Linked DNA regions of Homo sapiens: region 2 is linked to region 1. Evidence: fine-mapped expression QTL. A gene starts in region 1. The other region holds a variant in brackets. All regions are shown on one strand. Distances are between the middles of the regions.

Region 1 (2,902 bases):
GTGTGGCTTGTGCATGTGAGCGTGGGACGGGGGAAATGACTGCCTGGTTCCCTCTACCTGCTGGCCTCAGTTTCTCCATTAGATAAGGTGTTTGGGAAGGGCTGGGTAGCTGAAGGCCAGGATGGGCTTTACCAATGTTCTCTCGGATGTGGATGGGCTGGTCCAGCATGGCCGGCGGGCCAGCCCCTGCAGAACTCACTGCAGACACGCGCAGGAGGAACTTGTCTCCCAGAGCCAGGTTCCGCACAGTCTGCTGGGTCACCATCATGGGCCGGGCACTCACAGGCACCCACTCCGAGGCTGAGGGGATGGAGAGAGTGTGAGGTCTTTGCAATGTGGCCACAGGCGCCCCTCTCCATGGGGCTTCTTTTCCTGCTGGTGATCTGGGGAAATCAGCCTCCCTCTCTGGGCCTCATTTTCCCCTTGTTTGCCTTCCCTGACTTCTTGTCAAATGGCATCAAAGACACCTGATGTTAGAGCCCTGAAATTGTGGCTAGAGATGAGGTTGTTGAAGCCCAGAGAGGGTTGGACACATTTGCAAAGTCACACAGCAAGGTAGGGGCAGAGGCAGAGGCCAGGCTGGACTTGGGCCATGGAGGGGGACAGTGGCAGCAGGGATGTGGCCCCCACACCCCCACCCCATTCCCGCTTTCTCCTCACTGTCTCTTACGCTAACATTCCCCTCTCCAGCTCCTCCCTTTCCACTTCCTACAGTTCGGGGTCCTCTGAGACTTAGCACTTCCTTCCCTTCTCACCAAAGGAGAACCCAGTGTCCCCTTACCCTTCCCTTACTCAGAAGCTCCTTGGAGCTGAGGACAAGGGAGCCCCTCAACCCACCCACCTACCCTTTCTTGCTCTCCTGCTGGTGGAGCAAGAAAGGGCAGGTGGGTGGGTTGAGGAGCCTACTGCTCGCATCCCCTCCTTCTGTATCTCTCCCAGACTGACCAACCACAGGGCCTGTGCACTTGTCCCTGCAGCCCTCCATGACAACCTCCCCTGGGTGTATGCAAGACTTAGCCCAGCACTCACCTCCCTCTCTGCAGAGCTCCAGCACATAGCCCTGGAGGCCCAGCCTCCCCAGCCTCTCTGGGGGCTCCCAGCTCACAGTCACAGAGCTGCTGCTCACATCATCCAGGGTCAGCAGCAGTGGGGCACTGGGGACATCTGGGGAGATGAAGAGGTTCATGGCCAAGAGCTCCCCTCCACCCCTGACATGCCTGCCTCCCTCCTCCCCCTGCCCCACCTTCAGTCACCTTCACTTGGGGGTGCAGGCTTAGTGGCTGTGGAGGCTGTAGGGGCCTGTGGGGCAGGGGCCTGCGGCTTGGGCACCTGCTCTTCTCTGGTGGACTCTGATACTGCCACTTCTCCGGGAGGCTCTGCTGTGGGCACCTTGGCAGATTCAGATGCGGTCTCCTCTGGACTGCAGGCAGGGCCCTCGGAGGTGTTTTTTTCCATCATTGCTGGACTGGCTGGGGGGCCAGGGTGGAGTGTGCAGGGGTCAGCCGTTGGGGGGCCTGGGCCTCTAGGGTGCCTGGGACACCTAGGTCCAGGCTTATATAGTCAGGGGCTGCCCCACCCCCAGCAAACGATTCCCAGCTGTGGGGTCAGGTCAAGCAGGAGGACTGGAGGGTGGAGAGGCGCCCAGGCCAGGAATAGCTCTGGGGGAGGAACCACAAGGGCCCCTTGAGGAGTCACTTCCTCATCCATCTCCCCGACTGGCCTTCAACAGCCAGGGTGCTGGTGCCCAGCTGGGGGAGGGCGCAGATGGGTGAGATGGGACATCGAGCAGGCCGCGTGCCAGGTGTCAGGGCAATAGGAGGAAGAACTTCTATCTGGAGAATGAGCCCAGCTCAGGCTCTGTGTGTCTGGCGTCTATGGGGCCACTTGTTCCCAGAGCTTCTCAGACTGGGTGCTGGGGCCCTGACAGTTTGGGACAATCGTCCTTGTGAGCACTCCCAGCTTTGCCTCTGGGGTCCACATTCCCTGGGCTCCCACAGTTCCCAGGGACTCTCGCCTGTGCTGTATGAGGCTGAGGGCCCTAGAGAGGGAGGGAATTGAGATGCTGAGGGTGGAGCTGCTCAGAGGATGGTCCTCCAGCATTGGAACCCCAGGAAGGGGCACTAAGTCTCCTGGCTCCTGTCTCAGTTGGGCGGCTGGTAAGGAGCTCGTCTCCCCTGATGCCTGCTGTGGGCCTCAGTTTTCCACCTGTTACAGAGAACCCCTCGCCCTTCGGGATGGGTTGCAGTTGTAGGCAGATCTGGAAGATGCCCTAGTGGAGGAGAGCACTCTGAAGCTTCTAGACTCTTCCAAGCAGGCTGTGGGCATGGGCTTTCTCAGTGTGCCAAAGGAGGCAGATATGGCCAGATTTCTAGTCATTGATTCATTTGTTCGATAAAATGTTAAGACTGGGAATCACTGGAAAGCCAGAAAATGCCATGTGTCAGGAAGGAGGGAGAACATTAAGAACTTTTATTGCTGGTATTGGAGCAGTCACTCTGGAAAATGTGAGAGTTTTACTAGTGCCTAGTAAAATGGATGAGGTGCCTACTCCGTGACCCAGCCGTGCCGCTCATATAACACCCACACATGCCCCAGGAGACATGGAGAAGAAGGTTCATGGCAATGTTATTTGTAATTGTTGAAATGTGGGGGAAAACAGCTGTCCCTCAACAGTGGGATGGATAAATAACTGTGGAGTGTTTATGCAACTGTAAAGCAAAATATGGGGTCAAATGAGCAACTTCAGCTACTCACAGACCCAGTGATGAGCAGAAGAGCAAGGCACACAGAAATGTTGCGTCTCATCTGTCTCATCTACATTAAATCCAAATGCAGTCAACACCAGGCTCCCTTCTTCAAGGTACATCCGTAGGCGGTAAGGCCAGAAAGGAAGATGAGGCCA
Region 2 (2,902 bases), 24 kb after region 1:
AAAGGGGATGTGACAAGGGCAGCAGAGGTAGGAGTGATGTGCTCTGAAGATGAAGGAAGGAGCCACGAGCCAAGGGATGCGGGCAGCTTCTAGAAGGTTAGAAAGGCAGGGAAATAGATTCTGCTCTGGAGACTCCAGAAGGAACACAGCCCTGTGGACATCTTGATTTTAGCTTTATCAAACTTATTTTAGGCTTGTAACCTCAAAAAACTGTAAGACATTAAATATGTGCTGTCTTAAGCCATTATAATTTGTGGTAATTAGTTATAGCGGCCACAGAAAACTAATACAGAGATTGTTTTCTCCATTGACAATGAGGAAGCAGAGAGCAGGTGACCTTTCCAAGTCACTTGGCTGCTAAATACAGAGCCTGTACTGGAGCCCAGTCTCTAGGCTTCCTTTGACCAGGCATGGCCCAAGGCAAACCTGAGTGCAGGGAGTGTGAGGACATGCCTGAAAGTGACCTTTCTCCTGCTAGGCAAGGGCCTGGAGGAGGTGAAACCTGCGTGGTCTTCAATGCCCCTGACATTTGAAAGAAAGTGCCAGCTCCTCAATAAAAACATGCTCGAGGCAGACCTACCCAGGTTGGCACTGGATGAAGACCTCCCTGGTGGGGAGAAAGAAGCAGCTGGATTGCATGATCCCTACCCTGTCCCTCGGATTCACCAAGATGCACATTTCCCTTGAGAGGTTGTAGCCAAGGTGGTCTCAGGGGCACTGGTCACCCCTTAACACTCTGGCCCAGGAGGTGGCACAGTCCTCCCCCTGAAAAGCAGAGCCTGAGCCAAGGCATTCAGATAAGACTCAGGGGAGGCTTGAGGGTGAGGCAGGGGAAGTGCACGCTTTGAGGTGGGTCCTGGACAGTCAGACGTTCAAGCTATGCTCGACTCCTGATTCCATACGGAGGGCGCCATCTGTTTAGGGACCCCTGTTGAAAGATGCACCCCTGCTCCCAAGTCGGGGCCCTCTTCCATCTCCCTAAGGCTAGTCTTCTGAGCTCTGGTTTCCAATAAAGATACAACCTTTCCCCAGGGATTGGAGCTGGGCACCTCCTCTTTGTGGAGACAGAGCTCTCTATCTACAGACATGACCTGACTCATCACTCAGGCCACAGCTGAACCGAGAGAATATAACAGTCCCCCAACATCCACATCACTTCCACACTTCCACTGTTTGGGTAAAGCATTACATTACTCTCTGGAGCCCAGAGTCTTTTGGCTGAAAGACTAATTCACTCCATTATTCATCCTGAGGGGCAAGGGAGACTTGCTATGGGTGCCAAGTGCCCAACACATGCTATTCCAGTCACAACCCGCCCTGCCGAATGCTGGAATGGAGGTGTTGGCCTTATCCCTCTCAGTAGGTGAGCAAACGGAAGCTGAGAGAGGATCAGTGCTTTGCCCAAAGTCGTGCACATTTTATGTGGTTGAGCAAGACTTGAACTGAATTCAGCTCTTTCAACACTGAGTGCGAGGGTTGTTTAAGTAAGGCTGCCCTCATGGGATAAAAGGAGAGTGGGAGGAAAAAGAGAGAGAGCCAATATTGTAAGAAAATTCATGAAACACAGTGGGACAATAGGACAGAACAGTTGAAACTGGGACTGTCCTAGATAGCTGGTATAGATCTTGCCAAGAAAGGAAGTCAGAAGCTAACTATAGACTGAGGACCACGGG[T/G]GTAAGAACACGGTCAGTCCCTGGATTCTGCCACTTCTCCTTGTTGGTAATTTTCCATTCTCCCCACTGCTCCCCTGCAATGACTAGCACATAAACCCTGAAACTGAAAGGGACAGCTAGGAAGCAGATAGCCAGTCTTTGTCCAGTTCTGCAGCTATTTTAGGGAGAGAAAGAAACTCAACAATATGGTGTTTATGAGGAAAGTTTTGAGAAAACGTAAAAATAAGCGGAAAGGAGAGTGAATCTTTGGTGGCTTAGAAGGATAAACTAAAGAGCTCACAGGAGTCTGCCAGGGACTAAGGGCAGCATGTGTTCATTCTTTCAGGAAAGAGTTACTGAGCCCCTATTAGGTGCCAAGTCCTGGGCTAGGGTGGGGAGAGTGAGGAGTGGAACCTCCTTTAGTTAGGACAGTCAGGGAGGCTTCTCCGAGGAGGTGATCTTAAGCAGAAATCTGAGGGATGAGAGGGAGTCAGCTACCTCAAGAAGAGAGAAAATGATCCAGGCAGAGAACACCATATGCAAAGTCCTGGAGGTGAGAAAGAGCTTAGTGTGTTGGAAAAAAAAAAAGAGAAAAGCACAAGCAAGCTGACCAGCTGGCTAGAGTAGTTTGGGGATGTGGGGAGAGACAAGAGGCCCCGGGGAGAGAGGCAGGTCTGTGTCCTGGGGCCTGTGGAAACCACAGAGGGGTTTTGTCCTCTGTGCAATGGGACACCACTGGATGTTTAAGCAGGTAGTCCAGGATAGAGTTTATGTTTTGGAAAGTCACTCTAGTGGCTCTGTAGGGAATAGATTTGTGGTATGGCAAGAGTGGAAGAGGCATGAACATAAGCAGCTGTTAAAGAGGTCCAGGCAAGAGATGCGGTGGCCTGCCCTGGGCTGGGGACGTGGAGGTGGAAAGAAGGGTGGACTATGGACATTCCTTGGAGGGAACATCCGCACACTTACAGATGAGTTGGATGTAAAAGGATGAGGGAATAGAGGGACCAGGAACCACCCAGGGGGTCCTACCTTTAGCAAGGTGGACAAGGTTGTGCTAATTGTTTAATGTGAGGAATTCATGGGGTGGAGATAAGTTTTAGAGTAGGGGGTCTGTCTCAGCCATATTAAAGAACTGTTTATGCCTTATCTGGGTAGAGAGAGCAAGCGGGCTGGTGGATACATGCATCTGGAGCTTGGAGGAGAGGTCTAGGCTGCGGATACAGTCATTGGTGTCAAGATGCTATTTAAAG

Which allele goes with the higher level. Alleles are on the strand shown, and positions count from the first base shown. SD is a standard deviation of normalised expression in the study named.
As copies of G replace T in region 2, the expression in spleen of the gene that starts at base 1,529 in region 1 goes up (moderate effect, 0.73 SD a copy in GTEx).

What was found. PIP is the estimated chance that this variant, and not a neighbour inherited with it, causes the effect.
Region 2: its variant is fine-mapped to the expression of MYBPH in spleen (GTEx, PIP above 0.99).

Annotation. Positions count from the first base shown.
Region 1 is chr1:203,174,298-203,177,199 of GRCh38, forward strand. MYBPH (myosin binding protein H) reads right to left here and starts at 1,529. Exons shown (of 11, transcript NM_004997.3): 1 at 1,254-1,529; 2 at 1,030-1,164; 3 at 133-300. The coding sequence starts at 1,458. RefSeq lists an enhancer at 1-193.
Region 2 is chr1:203,198,791-203,201,692 of GRCh38, forward strand. No RefSeq gene overlaps it. Among named protein-coding and RNA genes, the nearest start is that of CHI3L1, 14 kb to the left of the region's middle. The variant T/G (reference allele first, on the strand shown) is at 1,674.